Linked DNA regions of Homo sapiens. The protein of the gene in region 1 purifies or fractionates together with the protein of each later gene. This does not show direct contact. Each region holds a gene or a part of one and is shown on either strand. Other genes may lie near its edges. The genes, in order: COBL, PACSIN2, PACSIN3 and ACTC1.

Evidence for each region.
Region 2: the proteins of COBL (region 1) and PACSIN2 purify together in Homo sapiens (affinity purification with mass spectrometry; 4 studies listed by BioGRID and IntAct, with this or other methods). This does not show direct contact.
Region 3: the proteins of COBL (region 1) and PACSIN3 purify together in Homo sapiens (affinity purification with mass spectrometry; 4 studies listed by BioGRID and IntAct, with this or other methods). This does not show direct contact.
Region 4: the proteins of COBL (region 1) and ACTC1 purify together in Homo sapiens (affinity purification with mass spectrometry; 2 studies listed by BioGRID and IntAct, with this or other methods). This does not show direct contact.

The regions. Positions count from the first base shown.
Region 1 is NC_000007.14:51,015,022-51,020,932, reverse strand, and holds the end of COBL (protein cordon-bleu), read left to right. Parts: intron 1-3,364; coding exon 3,365-3,382; 3' UTR 3,383-4,721; downstream 4,722-5,911.
Region 2 is NC_000022.11:42,868,389-42,873,078, reverse strand, and holds the end of PACSIN2 (protein kinase C and casein kinase substrate in neurons protein 2), read left to right. Parts: exon of another isoform or gene 1-587; intron 588-619; exon of another isoform or gene 620-1,094; intron 1,095-1,575; exon of another isoform or gene 1,576-1,609; coding exon 1,610-1,722; 3' UTR 1,723-3,306; downstream 3,307-4,690.
Region 3 is NC_000011.10:47,183,305-47,193,111, forward strand, and holds the start of PACSIN3 (protein kinase C and casein kinase substrate in neurons protein 3), read right to left. Parts: upstream 3,131-9,807; 5' UTR 3,045-3,130; intron 2,544-3,044; exon of another isoform or gene 2,338-2,543; intron 2,072-2,337; exon of another isoform or gene 1,962-2,071; intron 1,431-1,961; exon of another isoform or gene 1,241-1,430; intron 1,194-1,240; exon of another isoform or gene 997-1,193; intron 1-996.
Region 4 is NC_000015.10:34,791,377-34,800,030, reverse strand, and holds the start of ACTC1 (actin, alpha cardiac muscle 1), read left to right. Parts: upstream 1-4,481; 5' UTR 4,482-4,525; exon of another isoform or gene 4,526-4,888; intron 4,889-5,122; exon of another isoform or gene 5,123-5,200; 5' UTR 5,201-5,222; coding exon 5,223-5,351; intron 5,352-5,913; exon of another isoform or gene 5,914-6,189; intron 6,190-6,461; coding exon 6,462-6,786; intron 6,787-7,461; coding exon 7,462-7,623; intron 7,624-7,749; coding exon 7,750-7,941; intron 7,942-8,654. UniProt on the Homo sapiens protein: Actins are highly conserved proteins that are involved in various types of cell motility and are ubiquitously expressed in all eukaryotic cells.

The DNA.
Region 1 (5,911 bases):
TGATCAAATACAAAAGGGTAAATTTGATGTAGGAGGAATAATTACCTTAACAGTGACGTTGCCATTTTTCAAGGCAATTGAAATTACATTTGCCTTCACGGTGTGAATCCAATGATGTCTCTGCCTCTGTATTTGTGGCTGCCAGAGAAACTTCCAGCTGTGTTTCTCCTCCAGCTCCAAATAAGAGCATTTGCAGCTCGGCTGCATGTGCACCCACTTCCTCAGTGGAACACCCACTCCTCCTGAAGGCAGTGTTCAGATCTGCCCCCACCCCACACTCAGTGCTTGCTTCCACTCAGCCCTGCGTTCTTATTAAAGGCAAAGCTGTATGCGTCTGACTGTCTTTGTCGATCTGTTTTAAATGCATTATTTCAGAAGGCCTGGAATGTACAAGTACCCTCCTAATCCATGTGTATATTTAAAACATTCATGTCTAGTGCTTCATTCTACAAGCATTTCCGGAGAACCTACTAGGGTCCGGGCACTGTCGGAGCTGCTTGTGATAGACGAAAGAAGCTTCATCTGTGCCCTCAGGACCTCTCAGCCAGAGGAAGGGGGCAGGGGTGCGGGGTCTGCTATTGACCTTAGGAACTTTTCCAAAGAAGCTGGGACAGGCTAATCCCGATGACTTGTGGATCTTTCCTCCCAGGAGGGCAGCGGGGCAAGCATCTACCCCGACACCTTCCTGGAAGTCAAGGTCGTAGCTCCCCTTTGACAGGTGCGAAAATGGGGCACAGACATCATAAGTGACTTCTCCCAGCCCTTCCGTGTGTCCTGCTGCTGCTGGGCCCAGACACCTTATCAGCTCCTAGCCGCTTTGGGAAACGTCCTATTGAACTGAGTTCCAGTCTCTTGTCTGGGCCCTCAGGTGCCTGTTTTCCCACGGCAGGAATTAATTGATGCGGGCCACACGCGTCATGACACTTGGCCTTGACCACAGACCTTGTAAGAAATGATTAGACATGTGACAGTAACAGGAGGCCCCAAACCAGGAAAGAGAAAAAACACACCAACTCTCTTTTCATCTAAGCCCTAGGTCCTCATATGTGCATTAGAGAACTCCAAGTTGCTGTGACGAGGGAATAGCAATTTCTATCAGGATGTGAATGTGACCCACAATACAATTGCATCACCCCTGGTTTAGTTGCTCGTAATGTAAACCTGTGGTGTGCTTTGGTTAATGTGAAATTGTTCTGAGGCCTAGGGGTCAGTTCTGTCTTTGCAGACTCTTTGCGTGTGACTGTTCTGCTTATTGCAGCTCTACTGAGTCAGCTGCCTCTTCTGCAGGTAGAACGGGGAGGAGCCTCCTGGGAGAAGCACACCTACCACAGTGACCATCCTCAGGGCCAGCAAATGCTGTTCTCCACTCCTCCAGAGCTGTTCCCCACATTTGACCAGCTCATTCCTGACTCATCCCTTTGTTCCTTTATTAACCTCACGTCTTCAGAAAGCCTCCCTCAGTCTAGATTAGGTTCCCAATACAGCGTCACATAATTTTTCCTTCATAATGCAAACCACAGCTCTAATTTCTCTAGCAGTTGGTGTGGTTTTTGTTGGATGCTTGCCTTCCCTTCCACATCACAAGTTCCATGAGTCTTGCCCATCGTGTCATGTGATGGAAGGGTAGACACGCTCCCTGGTGCCTCCTTGATAAGGCCACCAATCCCTTCATGAGGTTCAACCCCCATGACCTCATCAAATTCCAGAGTCCCACCTCCTAATACCACCATCTTGGAGGTTGGGATTTCAGCATGTGAATTTGGGAGCACACAAGCATTCAGACTGTAACACTCCCCCTATTAATAAGTGGGGCCCTCAGGAAACATCTGGCTAAGTGGAGCACTGTGTTTGTACAAGTAGATCAGAGGTGTCTGATCTTTTGCCTTCCCTAGGCCACACTGGAAGACAAATTGTGTTGTACCACATATAAAAAACACTAACGATAGCTGGTGAGCTTAAAAAAAATTGCAAAAAAAATCATATATATATATATATATATATATATATATATATATATATATATATATTTTTTTTTTTTTTTGAGATGGAGTTTCTCTCTTGTTGCCCAGGCTGGAGTGCAATGGTGCGATCTCAGCTCATGCAACCTCTACCTCCCGGGTTCAAGCTATTCTCTTGCCTCAGCCTTCTGAGTAGCTGGCATTACAGGCATGTGCCATCATGCCCAGCTAATTTTTTATTTTTAGTAGAGACGGGATTTCTCCATGTTGGTCAGGCTGGTTTCGAACTCCCGACCTCAGGTGATCTGCCCGCCTTGGCCTCCCAAAGTGCTGGGATTTCAGGTGTGAGCCACTATGCCCACCCTCATAATGTTTTAAGAAAGTTGACGAATTTGTATTGGGATACATTTAAAGTGGTCCCAGGCCATGAGTTGGACAGGCTTGAAGTAGATGTTAAATCCCCACCATGGGAGTTCAGGAAGAGGGCCCGAGAGAACCTAGAGAAGAGAGGGATATGGAGGAGCATCAGGAAAAGGGCAGGTGCGCCCAGTGTCAAGACAGACCCGGGTGGTGTCGATCCTCCCAGTTCTTCTGGGCCTTGGGGCTTCACTTCCTCATCTGTAAGATTGATGCGAGGGATGTGTGAGAGAGCATGCACAGGGCAGGGTCTGCATCACCACCACCATCACCATCACCATCACCATCACCACCACCACCACCATCGTCACCACCACAGTTACCACCACCATCACCACTGCCACAACCACCGCCATCACCACCACCACGATTACCATAACCACCGTTACCACTGCCACCACCACCACAATTAACCACCATCACCACATGGAAAGTACCTAGAATACTTCCTGTGTGCTTACCATGTGCCAGACACCATTTAAAGTGTGACACAAGTCCACTCATTAAAACATCAGCTTAACCAAACAAGCAGTTTATTATTGTCATTATTATGGGTATGTCTCCAATATAAAGATGAAGAAACTGAAGTTATAGAGGGTAACTCGTCCCACATCAAATGTTAGTCACGATCCTCTCAGGCACACCTGAGCAGAGGGCAAGGCCTCAGATGCGTACCCACACAGCCCAAGAGGCAGTGTCCTCTGTCTGGACCAGGACCCCAGGGCCCACCTCCCAGTTCCCTTGACCTCGGGCCTCTGCATCCTGCTAGTCGTCCTTCCCTGGCAGCTTTTACGAGGAAGCTGGAGCGTGAGAAGGTCTGTGAGGACAGCCCTGATCACAGCCTCCTTTCTGCAGGTCAAAGGAACTGGGAAGGGGGTTCCAGGAGTACTATTGCAAGAGTGGCTGTGCACAGAGCTCTCTAGCACCAGAAGATCTGCATCCTGGGCTTATTGACATACCAAATAACTGTGAATCTCTCTTCCCTGCAGGTGCCCTTGCTCGTGTGAATGAACAGAGGCCAGAGAATTGCAGAAACCCACCTGTAATATGCCCACAGGCGTCACTCAAGGAGTCTGCATAGCCAGGAACATCAAGTTTTGGTGTTACTTTCTTGTCTACAGGCCAAATGCGCACAGTTGATTTTCGGTGTGTTCCTGTATAACGGCTTGAAAGGAAAGGAGAAGATGCTGTGTCGCTGCGCAGCTCGTGTGCCAAGGAAATGTGTTTTGCCTCTGAATATCTTAAGTTGCTAATAAACGATTCTTGTTGGCAGGTTAATGGGACTATAAATGCTGGAGCCCAGCACTCACACTTAATTATATTTATGGGCAAAGTAAAAAGAATCATGCCTTAGACTGATTTTGGACCTTTGAGACTTTTACCACATACAGATGGATGAAACTACTTACTGATTTAAGATCTTTTGAATTTTAGAAAAAACATATGAATCAGATGGAACAATCTGAATGTGATATGCTCCATGATGCTGTGTGTTTTGGTAGTAAGAAAAAAAAATTGGGAGGCTTTTCAAAGGTGGCTTTGTTAGGTAGTAAAACTGCTGGATTCTTCTTCCTCAAATATTTGGGGCTAACACTTCACAGAGGGTCACAGTCCATGATCTGACCAACTAAGCTTTTAAAAATCAACTATTACCACCCAGAAAACAGTCCTACGTGATCATGTGGCCAGGGCATGCCCGAGTCCTGCAAGGGTGGCGGGTGGCTGAGGTCACACCACCACTGGAGTGGATGGGCAGTGCCCCACATGGACAGCCATTCCCCAGGCTATGAAGTGACATAGGCCTCCCCCACGGTGCCTGTGTACGGAGCCTGATGACTTCACTGGGAGCCTTCTGGAATCCTGCAGAGGGTCAAGGAGCAGGGATGTTGGATGCCCACCTGTCAAGAGTTCAGATCAAAGTTGCGCTGAGAGCATCACAATTTTGGTTCAGCCTTGACGCGTTTGTCCAACAGCTCATTGGCTCCCTTTGTATGATATCGTGGTCTTCTCACATGGTGCCCAGTCACCAATATTTATAATGAGGTCTAACTACAGCAGTAGTTTTTCATATATATCTCTAAAACATTTTGTTATATTGAAAAAAGTAATAGAAATCAAGATGTGTTGATGAAATAAAATGTGTATCTGAGTGAGAAAACAAGTATGGTGAGGTCACTTTAATGTTTCACAGCGATCTCAGATCTAGGCCTCAGGTAGAATGGAAGCTGTTCTGCATTCACTGATTAACGTTGCTAAACTCTTGGTGAGGCACGAGCTACCAGCCAATTGCTCTTCATCACAGCTATCTGTCTTTTAGTGCCACAAATAAAAGAAAATCAAATCTTAGCTGTTGTGTGAATTTCATACTACAGTTGGTTTGGATACCCCTCTTCCAAAATGGGAAGGACGGATTCAGTTATTCAACCAACACACGTTTCTGGCTCCCTCCTGCACTCCTCCATTCCCTGGGTTACATGCAGCTGACAAACAGGCAAAAATCCCCACACTTGTGAAATTCATGTTATGTTACTATGGAGGAGACAGACCATAGATGTGATATAAGTTAGCAAAATGTTGAGTACATTTAGGCGCTGATAAGTGTAAAGAAGAAAAACCATCGGGAAAGTGGGACAAAGGAGACGGGGATGAAGAAAGGCCCAGTGAGAAGGTGACCGTTGAGTAAAACCCTGAAGGAAGTGAGGGAGCAAACTCCGGATGGACGCATGACTGGCAGCGAGAAGAGTGAGTGCAAAGGCCCTGGGGGCAGGACGCTGCCTGGGTGTTAGGGGCACAAGGAGGCCATTGTCAGGAATGGGAGGTCGAGCAGATACAATGTTGCTGGCCTGTGCCCCTGGTCTTCACATACTGCATGGTGTTCCCCTTCTCAGAGCAGCCCTGCTCCCTGGCCAGACCAAGGGGGCAGCAGACAGAAGGGGCCCAGAGGTGGGCCTCGGGAAGGACGAGAGGTTGCCCACCTCCCTAGTTCATTTTCCTTGTGAGGGGAGGGGACCCACTTTAGGCTAAATCTACTTTTGAAATTGTCTTGCCTTCTGTATCTCAAGCTGCAAGCTGCGCAGAAGCCTGGGTTTTGAAGTGTGGAATATGGAATAATGACAGCCTCTGGCCTTACTTTGGTCTTTTTGCAGAGTGTTTCATGATTATTCTTGGTTCATCTTCTCAGTGAGCCCAGGTGGTATGAAGGCAACATCTTCCAGATGAGCACACTGAAGGTCCAGACGATTAAGTACCTCAGTGATGTTCTTAGTGTTGAAACATGCTTCTGTGACTCTGGATTGCCTACAGAGTTAAGTCTAAACCACTCACCTACAGGACTCTTAGTGCCTAGATCCACACTGCCTACACACACAGACACTACCCGCATCCCACGTCCCCGGCCCCCGCCCCCATGTCCCGTATCAACATCAAGCCACCACCAAGTTCCTGAATGCACCCGGGAGCTCCTCTGTGCCCCCGTCGCATTAACATGCCAGAGATGTCAGCACCACCCCTGCCCACTCGCATAGACCAGAAGTGCC
Region 2 (4,690 bases), on another chromosome or scaffold:
CTCCCAGCCAGTGTGGCTTGACTTACGTCTCTTGCGGTGTTCTGGCTGTTTGCCACATGGTAGTGTGGGGTTACAGGCCTCATCCTAGCCTCGGTAGCCTGGATCCAGGCCTGTGAGAGCACAGCAACCAATGAAGGCAGGACAAAAGAAACGCCAGGGGCCCGAGGCACGAAGCGGTGGAAAGAGATGGTGGTTCATCGTGGCTGCTGCCCTGTGGCCCCTGCATCTGCTCCTGATGCCTCTGGGTTAGATCTGCAGGCGCACTGGTCTGGCAGAAGCGGCACGACAGTGGGAGGCTGAGCCAGTGCTTACGCATGTCCCACCCTCCCAGGGTTCTTTAGTGTCTTAACACTTAATCTTCACAGTACCCCCAGTCCACAGATGAGGGCCACAGGCCCAGGGAGTGGACGCAGTTGGTCCAGGTCTCCCAGCCAGTGAGTGATGGCTGTGGGATTTGAGCCCAGGCAGTCCGGGGAGCACTGGAAGCCCCAGGTATTAGCTCCGCAGGCATGTTGACCAGCATTGCTGCCATACAAAATCCAAAGCATCAGGGAAATGCTAAACCAGGGGGAAAACTGCATCTAATTCTGAAAAATGGACCAAAAAATGCCAAAGAGAGTTACAAAACTTCAAACTTAGCAATAAAGGCAAAACAGCACTGGGACTATTTCTTTCCCACCAATTGCTTGCTCCTGACGAGGTCCGAGCCAGCAGGCCCAACTGGCCTTCCCTGCAGTGAGTTACCAACCAGAAGCACACAGGCCCCTGCCCACCCCTGGGCTCTGAGCTGCTCTGCTTCCCTAACCTGGCAAATGCCAGACCTGGGGCCCTACCCTAGTGCCACCTCCCCCTCACCACCCTAGTCTGCCTCCTTGAGACCAGGATCCATCAGTTCCTCTCATCTCTGTATCTCCTCTTCTACCCAAGGCCTGGCCAGAAGTAGGAGGTCCTTCAGGTTGGAACAACCAAAGATAAATGGAACCACGTTAATACATTAGAGCCACAGGGAGATTCCAGAACAGCGCCAGGGGCTCCTTCTCAGGGTCTCAGGAAGGGTTGACACATGGCACCGTGCACAAGTCATCAGCCAGGTGCTGGGGATAAAATGACAGGTATGACTGTCAGACATGGTCCCTTCCCCTCGCAGCCTGGAAGTTGCAGAGGAGAGGGATTAGCAAAGGCAGAGAGACCCCAGAGACAGCTGCTGGGAGCAAGGCGGCCGGGGCCCTGGGGAGGGGACAGAAGAGGCCCAACGTGAGGGAGGGGCACAACCGAGGGACGATTCCTGCCACCTGGCCAGGGTGGTGAGGAAGGCACAGCCCTATGGAGCTGGATGCCGCAGTCTCAGTGGGAGCCACTGTGGCAGCTGAGAGCAGCTTGTTCCAAATTACTGTGTGAGACTGTCATCTCTAGGTCTGTCAGAGGCCCATGACCAAAGAGGCAACTTAAAATGCATGCATTTAGTAGAGAAATGACCAGGCCCTCGGCCTGCCCGCCACAGAATGCCTGGCCCTCCACCCTCTGTGGGCTCAAAGCTCGTGAATGCGGCTCTGTAGCCCACCGTCGGTGTCATACCTCTCATGGAGACGGCTCCCTCTTTGTCTTGCAGGGGATGAGCTGACCAAGATGGAGGACGAGGATGAGCAGGGCTGGTGCAAGGGACGCTTGGACAACGGGCAAGTTGGCCTATACCCGGCAAATTATGTGGAGGCGATCCAGTGATGAGTCGGGGACAGGCCAGCGGGGGGACGGAGGCGGCGGGCCCAGGAGCCTCAGCCAGCCACGTGGGCATCCACTCCTTTTCCTGCAAGAGATGATGGTTCCATTGCTCTTGGCTTCATGGTGTTCCTGGAAGGCAGATGAGCTGGTCATTTCGCCTGGGACTCGGCACCTTTCCGAGTGCAGCTGGAGGGATCTGAGCGCAGGAAGACGCAGAACAACAGAAATAGCCGCCCCTCCCCGCCCACTGTGCCTGTTGGCCTATCATAGATCTCTATGTTCTTGACTTTGTCTCTCCTTTCCGAGTCAATGGTGGGTTACACTGATCTTGTTCCACTGATTACTCTCTCTGACGAGTCCATCACCTGCAACTTAAATGAACAAGCTTACATCCCATTTTGAGTGAAGATTTTGAGGTTTTTAATTTAAAGGCTGTGTACAGTTATACTTTTTTATACACCTGTTCATTTCTACTTAAATTATGGCACAGATTGATGCGCACCAGTCTTGAGGAAACGATCTCCCTATTCCCTTACCCTGTTACTCAGCCACGCCGTGTGTAGGCTTAGCCTCAGGTGGCAGATGTTTGAGGAAAGGAATTATGCCAGGAAGGTGGGACCGGGTTATGGTCGGGTTTCTATTGGGAATGCTCTTTGTGCTTTTGGGCATCTGAATGGAAGCTTTACATAGAACCTTAGGTAGAACTCCCCCAAATCGCCATATTTAAAAATTATTTTCACTCTATTCTTGCTTAAAACTGTACTCTTTTGCAAATTAACAATTTTATCACTGATTCAGAGTTAAAAAGAAGACTAACTTTTCAAGCAAATGCATCTGTAAAGATGCTTTAGATTAGACTGTCATGTCTCAGTGTCTATCTGTATATATTATTTGATATTCAGAGAATCTAAAGCACTCGTCTACTGTTTTAATGAGATTTAACAGCTTTTAACAGTGAGTTTCGTTTGTAAACTGCTTGAAGTCTGTGGCATTCAGGCACACGTCTGGCTGGCCGGCTGGGTCTCCTCCCGGGCTCAGTGGGCCTGGGGCCTCTCTGACGTGGTGCCTGCTGGAGGGAGGCTCGTCGTCACCAGCTGACTGCTGGTCCGGCTTCTGACCGGCCTTTGTCCTGGCTCCGTAGCAGAACACTGTAAAAGTGCCCGCGTCTTTGCAGTAGTTGCAGATTTCAGTCGTCGTGTTACTTGTGCACAAACAGAAGCTGGGTCTTACCCGCAGCACGAGTGTCTCGGGCTGCCCGGAGTCGCCCGGGAGCAGGTGCTGCAGCCAGAGTTACGCGGGGGCCACGCGGGCCGGCGGGGGTGGGGGGAACGTGGGGGAACCTGTGTTTCACGTGACTCAGCAGTGCCCGCCGCCGTCACCAGCTATGCATTCACTCCGTTTCCAGTGAGCAGATGTCTTGCTTGGAAAGTGGACCTGTGTCTGTGTCTGTCCTGAGAACTTACCAGCAGAAATCCTCATTTCTGTGCTACGGATTTACCAAAAATTGTCAAGTCTTTTTCAGTTTAACAGTTCCTTTACATGTGTAGTATTTGAGGAAAAAAATCAATAAACAGTTGATCTCGTGCATATGGAAGTCCCTTCGCCATCATCTGTCTTCATGCCCACTTCACTTGGCGGGGGTGGCCTCCCTGGGGCTTACTAGCTTTGGAGCTGGGCAAGATCCAGGGCACAGGACCCCTGCCCAAAAGGCCACGGCCCACTGCCCCTGCCAAACTGGAGGTTGGGGATTTGAGGCACCTGAGCCCCTTGGGGTTCCCTTCTCCCCGAGACCTGCTGCTGTTTGACCTGGGCTTCCACATGGTGCGGGCATCGGCTGGCGCCTCTCTATTGCCCCAGCCCAAACAGCAGGACAAGACTGACATCACCCATAACTCTCCTATGAGCACATTTTCCTGAGCACCTACTGTGTGCTCTCCACTTTTTACTTACATTATCTGCGTCTCCAAACATCTCCACAGGGTATGGGCAAGTCTCCCCATTTCCATTCTACCGAGGAGGAAACAGAGGCTCCAAGAGCCAGCCAGGGTTTCTTGAGGAGTCTCAGCCAGCCCAAAGCACTGAGCGAAATCCCTGAGGAACCACCCCCTCCCTCGCTGGAGAAACTGAGGAGGGAGGAGGCTTGGACTGGCTTGAAGACAGGAGAGAAGCAAGACGTGAGGGCGGCTGTGGCCACGCTCACCGAGCCCTGGGAAGGCTGCCCAGAAAAGCACGCCAGCTGGGCATGGGGCCTCACAGAGCACCTGGGAGGAGCAAGGCAGGCAGCTGCCCCTGCAGTGTGGCTTTGTCCCAGCTCAGCAAGGGTATGGGACAGATCCTTGTCACGCAGCCTCCTTGTCTGAGGGGTGGCGGGTCCCCTGCTCCCAGCTTCTGAGGAGTTGGAGCCCTACAGCGCAGGGCGGACACCCGGCTCGGCCCACAGCCCCAGGCTGCAGAGAAACAGGCAGAACGGGGTTGGGAGGGAAGGTGGGGGGTCAGAAGCAGGCTCCTGGTGCCAGTGGCCTCAGTCACTGCCCAAACACCATGGCAAGACCACGGTCCCCGCTGAGCTGGATGAAGCAACCTCCACTCTGAGGCTGGATCACACGGCCCCCCCCGTGAGAGATCTGGCAGGGCCTCTAACTGCCCATCTTCCCTCTCCTGCCCTGCCCTCAGGGGCCAGCTTGGAAACTTCAGCTTGTCTCTAGGCCTCAGTTTCCCCAAGTAGAAGTGATACTTTTCCAGTTGGAGAGTTAGAGCAAGAAGAAAAGGTGGCCTGGGCAACATAGTGAGACCTTGTCTCTACAAAAAGTTTAAAAATTGGTCGAGTGTGGTGGTGCATGCATCTAGTCCCAACTACTTGGGAGACTGAGGCAGGAGGATTGCTTGAGCCCAGGAATTTGAGGCTGCAGTGAGCCATGATTGCACCACTGCACTCCAGCCTGGACGACAGAGCTCTCGAGACAGTCTCAAA
Region 3 (9,807 bases), on another chromosome or scaffold:
GCCTTCCCTTGAGTGACAAGACAACCCTGTTACCCGAGAGGCCAAGTCAGAGGGTGCCTGGCCACATCCCAGTAGCTCCCTGTACTGAGGAGGGCACGAAGGGAACCAAGAGGCCTGGCTTCTGTGTTGGCCAGGAAGCCCGAACAAGTGTATGTAACTGTCTCCTCCTAAGGAGGCCCCAGCTCCCTCTAAGATGGAACTCCTCTGTGTGCTCAGCTGCCATGCCAGGGCTGGTGTGAAACTCAAACCAAGCAACGCACCAGAAATACGAGGGGCCCTGCAGTCACGGAAGATACTCATCTCACTCCACACATCCACTGAGGGCCCGCAAGGCTCCGTGGGGAACACACAACCCGGGCCTGCCCTCCAAAGGCCTGGCGTCCAGGGCAGCATGGGGAAGTGAGAAGCGATGGCCAACTATAAGAATGTCTCCCAGGCTGGGTGTGGTGGCTCACGCCTGTAATCTCAGCACTTTGGGAGACTGAGGTGGGTGGATCACCTGAGGTCAGGAGTTCCAGACCAGCTTGGCCAACATGGAGGAACCTCGTCTCTACTAAAAATATAAAAATTAGCCAGGCGTGGTGGCGGGAACCTGTAGTCCCAGCTACTTAGGAGGCTGAGGCATGAGAATCACTTGAACCTAGGAGGCGGAGGAGGTTGCGGTGAGCAGAGATTATACCACCGCCTGGGCAACAGAGTGAGACTGTCTCAAAAAAAAAAAAAAAAGTTCCCTAGAATCGCAGAGGACGGCAAGCCAATTCCAACCCCAGAGCCATGGCCCCAGGGACTCAAGGACACAGTGGCATGTGGCTGCTCCCCTCCTGCCTCTGGGCAGGGTCTCAGCTGTCCCCAGCACTGACTGACTCACAGACCCTAGAAGGAAATCGCTTCCTCTCTGAGCAGGCCCAAGGGACACAGCCAGACCCAGGAGGACAGTGTGCGCCCTTTGTCCCCAAAGCAGGGCGCTGTCACAGCGCTTCCTCCAAACTCATGCACCTCTGCTTCTCCTTCAAACCTCCAATTAAGGCATCTTCTCCTCAGTCACTTCCCCTGTTTCTCTGTCCTTGCTCCTGTAGCCCCGGGTGACCCTTCAGCCGGGGTGTATAACCCATGGAGTTGTGGCTGACAGGACAGTGTCTATCTTCAGTCACCGACAGAGGCTTCCAGGATTCTGATTTGTGTGTCCCCACGCGCTGGAATCAGCAATAATTAGTTAAGTGAGAAAAGAAGCGATGTCCACCTGGAGCGCAGGAAACGCGCCCGCTCCAGCAGCTGTGGGAATGCTTGGTCCAAGTGGGCTTCCCCCTCTGCTAACAGGAGACAGAGCTAGGGGCTCCGCGGAGACCCAGGCAATGGAGGTGCCCACCAGGGGCCTCACAAGCTCGTCACTTGGTTCCCTCTGCAGTGTGTCCTGTCTGCCCAGAAAGGACCTGACAGGGCGATGGAGAGAAAGAGAGCTGCTGCCATGAATCACAGGGCTCTGGAGCCGCCCCAGTCCAGCCTCAGGAGCCTGGGGCCCCTTGCCTGTTCCAGCCTCCGAGTTCCCTGCTCCCCAGAGAGCTGCCCCCCACCCCTTCCCTCTCTCTGGCCCCAGAACAGAGCAAGCTGTGTGTACCGGGCTGGCACAGCTCCCTCCGGCCTCCCAGAGCAAACACAGGCCCAAGCCCCGGGTGCAGCCAGGCCCCACAGCCCCAGCCTGACCTCTCAGCAAGCAAGCAAGGAGGGCTTGCACCTTGGCCCCCATTGAGCAGGTTGGCACCCTGTGCCTCCTGAGCTCAGCAGAGACCCAAATCAGTCCCCACCGCAGGCAAGAGCTCAGAAAGCAGGTAATGCAATCTTCCCAGCCCCGGGAGCCAGCACGTTCGGCTCCGAGAGGTCTTCCTGGGCTTGGCAGGGTCTCCTTGCAGCTGCACGGGCCAAGGTAGGAAGTCCCTGGTTCAGGGAAGACCCAGTCTCCCTACCTGAGGCCTGAAGGTACCCGGCCCCAGACCAGCCCCAACCTCTTCCAGAAGCTGGGGGCTTGCCCCTGGGAGGGAGCTCAGCCATTCTGCCTGGCCCATCCCTGGAACCTGAGTCACAGGCTGCGCCCAAGGGCTTCTTTCCCGGGCAGCCCCTCCCGGTGCGCCCGCAGCTCTAGGATTTGAGGACAGAGCGGGGGGGAGGGGAGGGGGCGTCAGTAGGCTGGTCCGAAGAGGGACAGCGAGGTTAGAGGGGCTGGAACCAGAAGCCAGAGCCAGCCAGGAGATCAGGAGGCTGGGGGAGGGGGTGGCGCAGCCAAAGCGGGAGGAGGCAGGGCCAGGGAGGGGCATAACAAAGGGGCACTTTTGGAAACCCGACCTGCCGGCCGGGGTGCCTGCTTCCAGATGACGCACTCCGAACCCCAGCCTCCACTCCAGAGCTCGGCGCCCAGAGGCTACGCGCCTCTGGCCTCAACCCTTATGGACCGCGCCCCTCGACAGGACCCCTTGCCGCCCGGAGCTGCATAACTCGGAGCCCGTGGAGCCACGCGGAGCGGCAGGGCCAGGCCTAGCCACCGAAGCTCTAGACTTCTTGGCCAAACTTGTTGAACTTGGTCTTGGCGGGGGTGGGGCCACTGATCACCGCCAAGGGGAGGGGACGCCCCCTGCCTGGGCCGGCCTTGCCGTGGGCTCCAGATGGTGGCCCCGGGCAGCGGACCCAGGAATCGGGGCTCGCTGCATAGGGCGAGGGATCGCCAGGGAGCGAGGACCCTCTGGGGCCTCGGGGCGGGCGCGAGGCGAGCGGACGGGGGCCCTCGAGGGGCCCCTGAAGACGGCTCAGCCCTCCAGCGCCGGCGCCGCCTCCCCCGGGCGGCCTGCGGAATTGCGAAGCCCGCGGCACCGCAGATGGGACGGCCCCTCGGCGCGGCTACGGCCCTTCCCGTCGGCACGCAGAGCGGGGTGGCCGGGGGCTCCCTGGGCGGGAGTCGGCTCCATTGCAAACTTCAGAAGCCGGAGCAGGAGAGGGCGGGCTCGAGCCACCGCACCCGCCGCCGCCTACCCGCGCGTCCCCTCCAGGGCACTCACCGCGTCCTCCCTGGGCCCCTCGGCGGGTGGGGGTCCGGCCACGCTCCGGCCCGAGTCCTGCCGCTCCTGGGCCCGCGCCGCGGCCTCCCGGAGCGCGCCGGGCCCTCCCCCGGGAAGCCCGGCCCCCGGCCCCCGGCCCCGCCCCTCTCCTGGCCGCCGCTGCCTCAACCCCACGCGGCGGGGCAGCGGGGCTGCAGGCATCGCGGCGACCAGCGGCTCTTGTGGCGCGGGTCGAGGTTTCTCTGCTTCGCCCGTGTGCGGAGTGCCTGGGCGGGCTCCCCAGGGTTGCGCCCCGGTGCCGCAGGGAGCCAGATTTCGGCTTTGCCTCTCCCGGACCGTTGCAGAGCCTGGGAGACCCGAGGGAGCAAGAAGGGACCGGGCCGGCACGGGCAGCCTTGGAGAGGGGCCGGGGGAATTACACTGCCTTACATTTTTAGCTGCACAGCTTGTTTAGAAATTGGCTCAGGCGAGGCTCACAACCACCCCTTGTAAGCATTAGGATTCCCACTGTACAGATGCAAAAACTGAGGCTCGGGGGCTTTTCAGAGGCTTGCCCAAGATTTCCCTCTAGTCAGGCAGGGCTGGGACTCCAAAACCGTGCCCTACCGTTCCACAGCTGCCCTGCTAATCTGGGGCGCCTTCTAAGGCCTGAGACGAACACGCGGTGGGGGTGGGACAAAAAGGCCTAAGCTCCTCCCGCTCCGAGTTCTTATTTCCAGATTTTGTACCACGATTCATTCTTACCCTTCGCCCCTCCACCCCCTTTATCAGTCTGGTACATTTTTCCATATCGCCACGATGCCACCCCACGCTAAATAAATCCCTTCTCCCTCCTCTCTCCCTACTTCCCTCTCCCCGCTTTCCCCCGGGGGTGAGATTTTGCAGAGCGGCTCCGTCTGTTATTTATATCCACTGGAGCGGTCCAAGAATGTTCCGAAGCTGACCTAATCGCCACCTGCTCGGCCTCTCCGCCCCTCCCACTCTCTCCTGGGCCCGGTGACCCAGCGGCGGTGCCCTGAGCCTTGAAGACCAGGGGGAGCGCGGACCAACGGGGTCGAACGCCCGGGCGCAGAAGGTCCCGGACGCAGAAGGTCCCGGGCGCGCAGAATCGCAGCGGGTCGGAGAGCCCCGGCGCTCTCAGAGGAGTGCGCCCCCAGGGACGCGGCTCTGAGCCCTGGGAAGCTGAGGCGCCTGGCTGCGCCCTCTGAAGCTCGTACTTTTCCTCCCACCCTCAGCTCCCTGAAGAGTGTGAGTGCGTGCGCGCGGAGTTTTAAACGGCAGCTTTAAAAATAGCAAAATTATGTTGTTTCTAAATCCAGGAGGAATCACTGACGCGTTCTTTACGCAGATGAATCCGCTCACAAAACGGGAAAGGGACCTGGAGAAAATGAATGGGGGTAATTTTGCCTGCCGAGGGCTCACTTGCTGGGCAGTGCTAATGGAAGGGTAAAACTGCCTCCCCAAGACACCTGTGGGGCACCCAAGGCGCGCCACCTTTGGCCTGAGGATTCTGGCCGTGTTTGGCAAATCATAGCTGAGTAGTGAATCTGAAACCTGGGATGTGGTTTCTGAGACCAATTTCAACACCCACTCTCTCTTAGGGCTTGGACAAGTCCCTTATCTCTATTTCTACCTCTATAAAACATGACAGGTGACCAGCTGACCTTCCGCTGAGCCATGAGCCCCAGCTAATTAATGATTGTAAAAAACAACTGCAGATCAGAGGAGCTGGGAAAATGGCAAATCACAGCCACAGGGTTTTGTATTCTTTAAAATCAGTTAACATCCCTCCTAGCGCCTGAAGGCCTTTAGGCACCTAGACCGAAGTGTGAAAACACAAGAATGAAATTAATTACAGGAGCCACCTATTAAAACCTCATTAAAAATAAAGTTGGCAGCCAGGCTGTGGGATCTGGGAAAGCCAGGCCATAGAGAGACTCAGAAAACAGGGCTGTTCATCAGACCACAAAGAGAAGGGGATGTGGACTGGAAAACATCTGGCTTCCCTTGGGCTCAAGTCTGGGAGCAGAAAGCAGAAATGTTGCAGCTGATCTTAATTGCCCCTGAGGTACTGTAGGGGAAAAAAAACAACAAAATAAAACCCAGAGCATAGGGGGCTGCTTCTAAGCTGAAAGTAGACAGACATGCCTTTGGAAAGCCAGCTCCAAGCTAATGCTACCCCCAGGGCTCCCATTCTGCGCTCTATGGCCAGAGCCCTTAACATCCACACTGCTCCATCAGTGCTGTCCTCAACCCAGAGTTCAAGATGAGATGTCAGTGGACAGAGGGCTGCATAAAGACAGAAATCTGGTCGGGCGCGGTGGCCCACGCCTGTAATCCCAGCATTTTGGGAGGCCGAGGCGGGTGGATCATCTGAGGTCAGGAGTTTGAGACCAGCCTGGCCAACATGGTGAAACCCCATCTCTACTAAAAATACAAAAATTAGCTGGGCATGGTGGCGGGTGCCTGTAATCCCAGCTACTTAGGAGGCTGAGGCAGGAGAATCGCTTGAACCTGGGAGGTGGAGGTTGCAGTGAGCTGAGATCGTGCCATTGCACTCCAGCCTGGGCGACAAGAACAAAACTCCATCTCAAAAAGAAAAAGAAAAAAAATGACAGAAATCTAAGGCTGGGCACAGTGGCTCACGCCTGTAATGCCAGCACTTTGTGAGGCTGAGGCAGGTGGATCACCTGAGGTCAGGAGTTCAAGACCAGCCTGGCCAATAATGAAACCCCATCTCTACTAAAAACACAAAAAAACTAGCAGGCGTGGTCGTGGACGCCTGTAGTCCCAGCTACTTGGGAGGCTGAGACAGGAGAATTGCTTGAACCCGGGAGGCTTAGGTAGCTGAGATTGCGCCACTGCTCTCCAGCCTGGTCGAAGGAAACTTTCTCTCAAAAAGAAAAAAAGACAAATCTAGCAAGGCATTTGGCTCAGGGTACCAATGGGCAGATTGGTCCATAGCCAGATTTCACGCCACTCACAGACTCACCTTGAGTTTCTGGAATATCCTAACCACTGTGCCTTCATTTGTTTATTTATGCATTCATTCACCCAGCCAAGAAAACACTTGAGTTTTTACTCCATGCTAAGGCTATGCTAGGAATGTTGGGAGTACAAAGTTAAATAAGGCAGAGTCCAAGTGTACCGTAATGATGCAAGGCAGATAGGAAGTATTGAGAGAAAACAGGCAGAAGGGACGGCCTTTCACAGGACATGACACTGATAGGTCTTGATGAGTAGGAATTAGTCACGTGGACAGGCATTCTAGGCAGGAGCTTCAGGGTGTGCCAAGCCCCAGGGGTGTTACCATATGACTTTGTGACCTAGCAATTCTACTTTTTGGTATTTACCCTGGACGAACATGTACAAATGCAGAAAGAGGTACAATGATGTTTGCATATAGTACTGTTTGCAACAGGGGAGAACTGAAAACAAATGTTCATCATGAAGGCAATAGTTGAACAACCTAAAGTTCATTCATGCTGTGGATTACTCTGCAAAAACTCAAGAACAAGCTAGAGGCAGGAGTTCGAGACCAGCCTGGCCAACAAAGTGAAACCCCTTCTCTACTAAAAATACAAAAATTAGCCAGGTGTGGTGGCGTGTGCCTTTAGTCCCAGCTACTTGGGAAGCTGAGACAGGAGAATCGCTTGAACCCAGGAGGCGGAGGTTGCAGTGAGCTGAGATTGCGCCATTGCACTCCAGCCTGGGAAGCGAGAGCAAAACTCCATCTCAAACAAAAACAAACCAAAAAAAAAAAAAAAAAAAAAAAAAGAACAAGGTAGAGAGAGACATATTCTTTTTTTTTTTTTTTCGAGACGGCGTCTTGCTCTGTCGCCCAGGCTGGAGTGTAATGGCGCAATCTCAGCTCACTGCAACCTCCACCTCCCGGGTTCAAGCGATTCTCCTGCCTCAGCCTCCTGAGTAGCTGGGATTACAGGCACGTGCCACCACGCCTGGCTAATTTTTGTATTTTTAGTAGAGACGGGGTTTCACCATGTTGGTCAGGCTGGGCTCAAACTCCTGACCTCATGATCCACCCGCCTTGGCCTCCCAAACTGCTGGGATTACAGACATGAGCCACCGCACCCAGCCAAGAGATGTATTCTTATAAGAAGACCTCCAAGACGATGTCAAGGGAAAAAAGCAAAATGCAAAACACACTAAATCTTCACAGAAAATATACTTCATACTGATTTTGGCGTTTATCTTTAGGCAGAGGTCTAGAATTGGTAAGGGACATTTTTGTAATGTTAGAAAATTTACAATGAGAATGTACCTATGTGTAAATTATGTAACTAAAATTAAAAACTGGGGGGTGGGCGAGTGGGTATTTGTATCTAAAATAGTGCTGTCCAATTATTTTCTGCAGTGGTGGGAATGTTCTATAGCTGTGCTGGCCAATATGATAGCCACTAGTAGCATGAGACTGTTGAGCACTTGAAATGTGGCTATTGAAAACATAAACTTGCCGGGTGCAGTGGCTCACGCCTGTAATCCCAGCACTTCGGGAGGCCGAGGTTGGGTGGATCACCTGAGGCTGGGAGTTCAAGACCAGCCTGACCAACATGGAGAAACCCCATCTCTACTATACAAAATTAGCCGGGCATGGTGGCTCATGCCTGTAATCCCAGCTACTCAGGAGGCTGAGGCAGGAGAATTGCTTGAACCTGGGAGGCGGAGGTTGTAGTGAGCTGGGATTGCTCCATTGCACTCCAGCCTGGGCAACAAGAGCGAAACTCCGTCTCAAAAAAAAAAGAGAAAACATAAACTTTTAATTAAAAAAAAATTTTTTTAACAACTGGTAATCAATTTATTAAAATTGTTGACTTAAGCATCCTGCAATGGTGACTTCCACCTCAACTCCTGGCTCAATACTGATGGAAGTAATCTGCTTAACAATCTCAGAAGGACTGTGCAAGTCAATGAGTCGCTGGTGGATTCTCATCTGGAAACGATCCCATGTCTTAGAACCTTCACCACAAGGGGTTTTTCTTGTAGTGATTCTCAAAGTCTTGGTAAGCATTCGGACTGGTCCTTTCACTTTGAGATTCTTTTCCTTTGCGCCTCTGATCAAGTCAGCACACACCTTTTCCAGGGATTTTATGTTGCGGCTTGTTAGGGTGATTCGAATTCAGTGAATCGCCACCTCCGGCTCCACGGGTGTTTTTCCGGTATCCTTAAAAGCCATGGCTGCTGCGTGGCTTCCTGACCGACTTTTTCCTCAGCGAGAGTGAACAGCAGTGAGTCAGGAGCAGGAGAGTGCGGACGAGAGACTCACAGCACCTACGACCGCGTCTTCCTCCAATTTAAAAATTTTGAAATTAGGCCAGGCGTGGTGGCTCATGCCTGTAATCCCAGCACTTTGGGAGGCCGAGGCAGGAGGACCACTTTAGGCCAGGAGTTCGAGACCAGCCTGGCCAAGATGGTGAAACCACGTCTCTACTAAAAATACAAAAATTAGTCTGGCATGGTGGTATGCACCTATAGTCCCAGCTACTCAGGGCAGGGCTGAGGCAGGCGAATTGCTTGAACTCAGGAGGCAGAGGTTATAGTGAGCCAAGATTGTACCACTGCAGTCCAGCCTGGATGACAGAGCGAGACTCTATGTCAAAAAAAAAAAAGAAAAATTAGCTGAGTGTCGTGGCACATACCTGTAGTGCCAGCTACTGAGGAGGCTGAGGTCACCGGAGCCTGAGAGGTCAAGGCTGCAGTGAGCAGTGATTGGGCCACTGCACTCCAGCCTGGGCAACAGAGTGGGATCCTGTCACAAAAAAAAAAAAAAAAAAAAAAAAAAAAAATTAACAACTACATGTGAGTAGTGGCTACTGTATTGGACTGTGCAGGTCTCGAATCTCTAGAATAATGAGGTCATGATGGGGTGGAGGTATCAGAGGCATTTGAACCAGAGAGACTCCAGCTTGAATAGGGGCTGGGTAAAATAAGGCTCAGACCTACTGGGCTGCATTCCAAGGAGGTTAGGCATGCTGAGTCCAGCTGATAAAAGGATGCGATAAAGAAGCTGGCCAAAACCTACCAAAACCAATATGGCAATGTGACCTCTGGTCATCCTCACTACTCATTATACGCTAAATCTAATACATTAGCATGCTAAAAGACACTCCTACCAGTGCCAGGACAGTTTACGGATGCCATGGCAATGTCAGAAATTTACTCTATGTAGTCTAAAAAAGGGAGAAACCCACAGTTCCGGGAATTGCCCACCCCTTGACCAGAAAGCTCCTGAATAATCCACCCCTTGTTTAGCATATAATCAAAAAATAACTTAAGTATTCTTAGGGCCGGGCGCAGTGGCTCACGCCTGTAATCCCAGCACTTTGGGAGGCCAAGGCGGGTGGATCACGAGGTCAGGAGATCAAGACCATCCTGGCTAACAAGGCGAAACCCCGTCTCTACTAAAAATACAAAAAATTAGCCAGGCGTGGTGGCGGGCGCCTGTAGTCCCAGCTACTTGGGAGGCTGAGGCAGGAGAATGGGGTGAACCCAGGAGGCGGAGCTTGCAGTGAGCCGAGATAGCGCCACTGCACTCCAGCCTGGGCGACAGAGCGAGACTCCGTCTCAAAAAAAAAAAAAAAAAAGGTATTCTTAGGTGAGCAGCCCTTGCTGCTGCTCTGCCTGTGGAGTAGCTTTTTTTTTTTTTTTGAGACAGAGTCTTATTCTGTCACCCAGGCTGGAGTGCAGTGGTGCGACCTCAGCTCACTGCAACCTCTGCCTTCTGGGTTCAAGCGATCCTCCTGCC
Region 4 (8,654 bases), on another chromosome or scaffold:
TGCCTGGGTTAATCCCCTTGGTGGTTGCATATAAAACACGGGGAAGTATGCTGTGAAGATTAGCCATGCCTCATATATTGGACTCTGAACACCAGGATGTGTGGGGGCCTGCAGCCCTCACCATCATGTCACTTTCTCCTTTCAATGAAAACTGAAACCCAGATCCAGCCAGAGGGCAGTGGGGGTGAACAAATGTGTAGGCAAAGAAAATAGGAATGTTTAGGAAGGCTAGATCCTCCCCCCGGTCTGATCTAAACCGAGGCTCTCCCTCCCCCGGCACACAGAATGCAGGAGGGACAGGAGGTGATGGGGAGGGCTCATGGGGAGGAATTAAGTGTGGCTCTGTCTGTTTCTGGCTTCTCTGTAAATACTGTGACACCTCCGAACGGAGGAACAGCTGAGATAAGTGACTGCTAATCCCCCAGTGCCGGGGAGGAGGCTGGGCCGCTCCCTTCCAGATCCCAGCAGATGGTGGATGAAACAGACTTCCCCCGAGGCAAGGGCAGTGGGAACTGTCCCACCTTCTGTTCCTTCAGTTTGCCCTGCACGTCTCCCTCATGGCCAGTCCACGCCGAAAAGGGCTTCACTGGCCCTCAAGAGCCCTGGGGACCCGCCCCAGCTCTGCCATCCCACTGGGATCTACAAGGTCAGCCAACCTGGACTCCAGCCAGCACTGGCAGCTTGGGCAGCATCCAGCAAAGCTCTGTGGGCTTCAGAGAGAACAGCCAAGCAGTGCGGCTAAGTTTTTCACTCTGCAGAGAAACATACCTAGGGGAGAACAGTGAGGGCTCATTTAAAATGCAGATTCAATCTTCCAGGGTGGAACCCAGGAATCTGAATTTCTATGAGGCAGTCTAGGTAATTTGGCTGGAGGCGGTTCTAGCATCACATTCTGAGAAATAGCAGACCAAGTATATGTGAAGGTATTTTTGGTGGTGGTTGGGAATAGGGCTTAAAATCAGGTGCCTGAGTTTGAATTGTCACTCCACCATTTGCTCACCTGTGTGACCTCAGACAAAAAAGGCTCAGTGGTTCCCTACCTCATAGGATATAAACTGGTCTTTCTCAAACTGCAGGAAGCACAATTTAGTCACAATTAGCAATAAAAAAAATAACACTCGGAGACTGCACAACAATGTGAATGCACTGAACACTTTTGAACTCTGTATTCCTAAATGGTTAAGATAGTAAATTTGATATATGCATATTTTACCATAATTAAAAAAAAATCTAGAATGTACCAAAGAGGAGATGTCATTTTTTTCTTCTTTGTTTTGTAATTTTTTTTGAGATGTCATTTTTATATGCTTAAAAAGCCAATCTCAATTTTCAAATTAAGTGGATCTGTAAAAAGTAGTTTAAATAAAACTCAGTCATGAAATCTTACTTTCCTGTTGGTTTACATTTTAAAATATATAAAATAGGGTTCAAAGTTTTTAAAATGTGGAAATCAAGGCCAGGCTTGGTGGCTCATGCCTGTAATCCCAGCACTTTGGGAAGCTGAGGCTGGCAGATCAGTTGAGCCCAGGAGCTTGAGACCAGCTTAGGCAACATAGTGAAACCCCGTCTCTTCAAAAAATACAAAAATTAGCGGGGTGTGTTGGCATGTGCCTGCAGTCCCAGCTGTTTGGGAGGCTGAGATGGGAGGATCAGCTAAGGTGGGAGAATCGGCTAAGGTGGGAGGATCACCTGAGCCTGGGAGGTTGAGGCTGCAGTGAGCCCTGATTATACCACCGCACCTGATTATACCTGGGTAACAGAGGGAGACCCTGTCTGAAGCAAACAAACAAATACATAAAAATAAAATAAATAAAATGTGGAAATTGAGTGGTAATACAAATAGTAAATATCAAACAATCATAAATTTTTAAGAAATAAGCATTCGTTCTTGCTACACACATAACACATATGAAAATACACTGTTTTGAGTGTTAGGCAATGAAATTGAGCGGAATAGGAAACACATTTTTCAAACATTTTAAGGGTGAATATTGTTTCACAAAACTGCTGTTGTGTCCTGCACTGTTCTACTGGCCTCCCACTAGAGCCAATGGTCCTGAGATGAGGGGGCTGGAAGTGGCCTCCTAGATCCCCGAAGCCTGTGCGAAGGACAAAGGTCAATAATCATGGTTTTCCATTCCTGAGAGTCTTTGCACCTATAGCAGTCATAGTGGGAGTCTCTCACCAGCCACTCCCATGCAGAAACTCTTTCTCTCACACAAATGTTCATAAACTTCAGTTCTGCTCTACTTTTAAAAACGAACAACACATCCTGGGGAAGGCTTTCTCGGCAACTCTTTCAGACCTCCATTCCCTTTTTGTGACTATCCTGCTGATACCTCTTCTTCCCTCCCAGTTTGTGCCATAGCTGTCTGACTTTTCTGTAATTGCCACGGAGGATGAGTCCTGCTCTGTTTTATTTATCACTGAATCCTTAACTAGCACAGTTCTTGTCCTGCAAAGATTTGCTGAATCAATGAAGAATGAAATCAACCTGATTCTTTAAAAGGCAGAGCTACTACTGCCTCCAAAAGTATCATTATTACACATACAATTTGCTTTGTATCTTCCATATTACTTACAGCATTTGTTTCTAACTATTACAATACACAATAACTTCTGCAACAAGTGTTATGGTATCACTTTTGAGAGGGAAAACTTGGGGCTTGGGAAGGTTAAGTGTCTTGCTCAAGACCAAACAGATAGTTAGTAAGTGATAAAGGCAGCATTTGAGCCCAGTTCTGTCTGGCTCTGACACCAGTCCCATTTCTCCTTTTCCTTGGTTTTTCTATATTTTCACGAGACAAGGCAGTTCTACTCTTGGCATCCTGTCAATAAACATTTTCACTGTAAAATGCCTGCTGTGCTGCACAGAGTAATCTCAGCCAGGTCTCTTACCCGACCCCACCACACAGCTGCCCATCGCGTTTCTTCTCCAGACCAACCCAAACATGGTTGGGGAGTTCAGAGGGGAGGGCCCAGCATTCCCCAGTCGGGACAAGTATCTAATCAGCAGGCCTCCTCAGCATATCAGCCCAAGACCACTCTAGAGAGAGATGCCAGTGCCCAGTTTTCTATTTTTAACTGGTGTGAACTGGAGGAAAAACACAAGCATTAAAAATCAAAGCTCCAGTCAAGAACTGAGAATGCAGGGCACCCCAGGGCAAACTAGTGATCTGTGTCCTTCTTACATCTCCCTCTTCCTTCTCCCTCTCCTCATTTCATGTCATTTTTCTTTTTCCTTCTCAAAAGTTCAAGATCCTGCAAAATCTGTTTTCCACAGAGGAGATGATATCTGTCATTTATGCCAATGCTTCTCACACTTTAATGTACATACCAAGCAAATGAGGATCTTGCTGAAAAGCGGATTGGGATGGCTCTTGAGATTGCATTTCTAGCTCATTTCCAGGTTATGACAATACTGCTTGTCCATGGGCTGCACTTTGAGTAGCAAGGATTGGTGTAGTCCTATAGTTTAAGTTGTTGCTATGTTCTCCATCAAAGTATTTGCCTTTGCAGTCTTGTCTCCACCTGGAGTGAGGGCCTCTGCCCCCAGTTTAAAGATGCTCATCTCCCCACCATCAAGTGGGCAAGCTACTTTTGGCATTTGTTCCTTTATTCACTTTGGCAGCAGGGGATCCTTTTCTGGCCTGAAGACCAGAGTCTGAATTTGAGCAAAACCCTGCAGCATGGATGAGGGCTACCCAATAACTGGGCTGGGGTAAACCTGGTCCCTTCTCCAGCAAGACTTGGCCAAGCTCTCACAGAAACCCTTTTCTGACTCTTCCCTGGCCAGACCCTGATCCATGCATGGGTTGGAACTCGGGTGGCCTTGGTTAATCTCAGCTTTCTGACCTAGATGAGCCCAGCACCAGCTCTCTGAGTAAAGCCATTCAGGCTGGCGGGGACTAGACCAGAAGGGTGCCCTGTCCTGGGTGCCCCTTTTGCAGCCACTCAGATGTGCTGCTGCGGTGTCCTTTGTGCTGGTGGCAGCCCTGGAAGATGAGAAGCCGCTGTTGCTCCCCTGCTGCCCTGGCCCAGCTGTCAGGACCCCTCAGCAGAGGGCAGGGCGCCAAGCCTTCCCACTGCATGTGGCTTATTGTCCCCAAGGCTGGCAGGGCTGCGGAGGACCGAATCCACAGACCATCCAGGGAGCACCCACACCCCAGAAAGGGGGAGGGGTGGGCTGGCGTCACTTAGTCTTCCCCTGCCCCCTACCCTTCAGCGCCTGCCCCTCCCCAGCTCCCTATTTGGCCATCCCCCTGACTGCCCCCTCCCCTTCCTTACATGGTCTGGGGGCTCCCTGGCTGATCCTCTCCCCTGCCCTTGGCTCCATGAATGGCCTCGGCAGTCCTAGCGGGTGCGAAGGGGACCAAATAAGGCAAGGTGGCAGACCGGGCCCCCCACCCCTGCCCCCGGCTGCTCCAACTGACCCTGTCCATCAGCGTTCTATAAAGCGGCCCTCCTGGAGCCAGCCACCCAGAGCCCGCTGCCGCCGGAGCCGAGCCGACCCGCCCCGCCGACGGTGAGTCAGCGCCCGGCCCTCCGCGTTCACTCCTCGCCTGGTCCGCGGGCCGCGCCGGACGCCAGCCCCGCGCCGCCACCTGGCCAGCCCGGCCCGCATTCAGCCAAGGCCCCAGCTCCTGCCGCTCTGCGACTGCCTTTTTTTTTTTTTTTTTAAAGCCCACACTTTTTGATTTGGTTCTAACTTGTTTTGTCCTGGGCGTTGGTCCTCGCAGGACCTCGCAGGGGCTCTAAGAAGGGGAATTTTGTGGCTCCCCAAGGGGCTTTTGGGTCCCTACTCTCGTGCGCTTTCCCCTCCATCTGGGGCACAGGCATGGCGATATGGACAGGGCTGGAGATCGAGTTCCCAGTTCGTGAAAAGGAAGAAAGTTAAAGGGCTGGGGAGGACTAAGGGGCTGGGTTTCTTGGGTCCCTCCTTGCACCTGGCACCCTAGCTGGAACTCCTGGCCAGGGAGCCTGGGTGGATTCCTCTGCCCTTCTCTGTCCCCAGTCTCCTCCGCGGCTTCTTCCCTCCCTTTTATGATTCGAGGGGAAGGGAGGTGGCAGGAGTGTTCCCCGCCCAACCCCCTGTCCAGTCCCCACAACCCCCTTCTGCTCTGTCCTGTCCTCTGGGTGCGGAGAAGGCCAGCTGCACAGGCAGCTAAGCGTGGTCCGCCCTCCCCTCCTCAACCTGCAGAACCCCCTGAAGCTGTGCCAAGATGTGTGACGACGAGGAGACCACCGCCCTGGTGTGCGACAACGGCTCTGGGCTGGTGAAGGCCGGCTTTGCGGGCGATGACGCGCCCCGCGCTGTCTTCCCGTCCATCGTGGGCCGCCCGCGGCACCAGGTAAACTTCCCGCCGAGCCCCCCGTCCCACTCGGGACCCCTTCAGTCCAGCGATCTAGGAAATGGCTCTCACCTGACCCTCTTGTTCGATGAACTCTTTAGGCCAAATTAAGAGAAGGCTGATTGACTTCAAATCCAAGCCAAGGCAAGCAATACTCCACAAAACCCCAACATACTGAGGAATGTACACCTGAGTGGCACGCCTCTAAAAGGGTCCCACTCCCTGGTGTGAAAGCCACCTGCTTCTCTCCACTAATGGCCTTTTGGACTTTTAGTCTTTAGTGTCTTCTCTGCCTTATACACTTCATTTTCTTCCTTGTCCTCTCTTTTCAGTCCTGTTTAAAACTTCTAACAATATCACCTCTCCCAACCAACCAGGACCAAATCCACATTCCTCTCTCATGTTCACAGCCAGTTTACAGGGTTCCCCAAAGGTGTAATCAATCTATCTCCTTCCTGGCTGTTGCATTTTTAGAAGCCAGGCGTGACAGAGGCAGCAAGTGCCATGGTGATAGTGACATACCACCTCGTTTGTTAAAAGACATGCCATGCTCTCTGGGTTTGTCACATGCCTGGCCAGACAGGCTGCCAAGCAGGAGAGCTTAGTCCTCAGAGCTGGTGAATGACTCCAGAACAGCTCTGGACAGGCTGAATTTCACTGTTGGAGTGAGGATGGCATATCAGCCCATCATTATGTGTTCACTTGAATGTCAAAATCTTTTTCTTAGGAGAAATACAATGTGTCATTAATTCAGTCATTCCAAAATGCAGTCATCTATATTCCAGTTGACATGGGTGATGAGCTTAATAACTTAATGAAGGCATATGATATTTTTAAGGTGAGGTGAGGCTCTGCTTCTTCAGTGGAATAGCTTCATTCTCTCCTGAGTTATATTCTCAACAATAGAATTATACATCTTTGGGGGAGTGGGGAGAAGGTAGAAGATTGATTTTTAAATAATTCTTCTAAATTGGGGTAAAATCGTATTGCTTGTTATTTCTGGTATTTAAATATGTTCCTTGACTTGGGCAGTTAGATATAAATGGACAAGACACTGATTATATTCCTGACATGGTGAGAGCATGATTTTCTCATTTTTTCTTCTCATAGGGAGTTATGGTGGGTATGGGTCAGAAGGACTCCTACGTAGGTGATGAAGCCCAGAGCAAGAGAGGCATCCTGACCCTGAAGTATCCCATCGAGCATGGTATCATCACCAACTGGGACGACATGGAGAAGATCTGGCACCACACCTTCTACAATGAGCTCCGTGTGGCTCCCGAGGAGCACCCCACCCTGCTCACAGAGGCCCCGCTGAACCCCAAGGCCAACCGGGAGAAGATGACTCAGATCATGTTTGAGACCTTCAATGTCCCTGCCATGTACGTGGCCATCCAGGCAGTGCTATCCCTGTATGCTTCTGGCCGTACCACAGGTATGCTGGGCTCTGGGGACAGTTACTGATGAATCACATTCCCAAGTCACCGACCTTGCTGTGAATCAGATCCCCCAGTTGAAAAAGGGATAATCCCTTTCCTCCCATTCCCTAGCAAGGTCTGTGCTAAGAGAAAGAGTTAACAGTAGTGCCCTGAGGTTAGTTTCGGAGCACAATTATTGTTGGAGCTGATAGCTTGTGGAGATAGGTCCTTCCCTCATTTAAAGCTCAGCGCAGTGTAGCAGCTTGGAGTGCAGCAGTCATTGTTATGTGTTTAAACCATCACATCACCTGGGCAAGCATCCCCAAGGAGAATACATTCCATACAGGGTCTGAGTCAAAAGAGAGAGAAACGTGTAAGTTCAATAGGAGCAAAGAAAAACACCCTTGGGTGCTTACATAATGTGCTCGTGGCTGACAAGAAAGATGGTCATTTGAAAGTGTCCTCGGGAATTTTTTCTACTATAATAGTTAAAAAGATGAGCTGCAGTTTGCTTCAGATTTAGTATTCCTGATGCGCATTTTTATTCTTTGTGTGTAAGGAATCTAATTTTATCTGGATCAATGCCCATTGCTAGCATCTCTTAGCCAAGATTGGAAGCGGGCTTTGCCGTGGCTAGAGCAGTGGTGTTGTCCTCAGGAATTTACCTTGTTCTTGTCTACTTCCCCGGGCAGGCATTGTTCTGGACTCTGGGGATGGTGTAACTCACAATGTCCCCATCTATGAGGGCTACGCTTTGCCCCATGCCATCATGCGTCTGGATCTGGCTGGTCGGGACCTCACTGACTACCTCATGAAGATCCTCACTGAGCGTGGCTACTCCTTTGTCACCACTGGTGAGTGTGTGTGTCTCATCTGCCACAGTGTGGGTCTGCTTTCCTCCTCTCTCACTGAATCCGCCTACCTCCCTATAATTGACTTCTTGCTTCAGAGCATGACTGTGATACTCTTTATTTCTGTAGCTGAACGTGAAATTGTCCGTGACATTAAAGAGAAGCTGTGCTATGTCGCCCTGGATTTTGAGAATGAGATGGCCACAGCTGCCTCTTCCTCCTCCCTGGAGAAGAGCTATGAACTGCCTGATGGCCAAGTCATCACTATTGGCAATGAGCGCTTCCGCTGTCCTGAGACACTCTTCCAGCCCTCCTTCATTGGTGAGTTGTAGGGTCTGGTGCAGAGGCACGATTTTCCCTGGAAATCTTAGGGTCTCCCAGAGTAAAATCTAGAAGGCTCAAGAAGCCCTTGAGTTAAAAGAAGTCATAGTTTGGATTCCCACACAGCTCAACCTCAAGTCCTGATGGCTCATTAAAGGGGAAGTCTATGTTCTGCTCTAGTGATATAATAAAGGATGACACACTGAGTTCATCTCAAAATAAAGGATGACACAGAGTAGTAACTGAATAGCACGTATCTGCAGGAAAAGGGCTAGTTCACAAGAGCTGACTTATTCCCGTAAGTTTCACTACCAAGTAGCTGGACTTTCCAAGTTCCTCATCATTAAATGCAATAACATTCCTACTCATATTAATAACTGGGCACTTATATGTCAACAAATATCCTTCCTAAGCAATGCTTTCCATAAGGAACTTTGTCAGGATCTGATTTAAGTCCATAAACAAAAATTACATTCATTTTAGTTTAAACGTGTATCTTTTCCTTTTCCAATACATCTTCATACATCTGAGAGTTTCAGGAGGTGTTTACTTGAAACAGGTGCTAAGCACAGTTGCTCCTTTCTTGGCATTGTATTGTGGATTAACTGTGAGGCACCCATTCCACCCTGCAGTGTGTCTTATAGGGGAACATATGTTTCAGAGACAAATGGTGACAGCTCCCCCACACAAAGAAGTTCTGTTCTCTTCCCTCT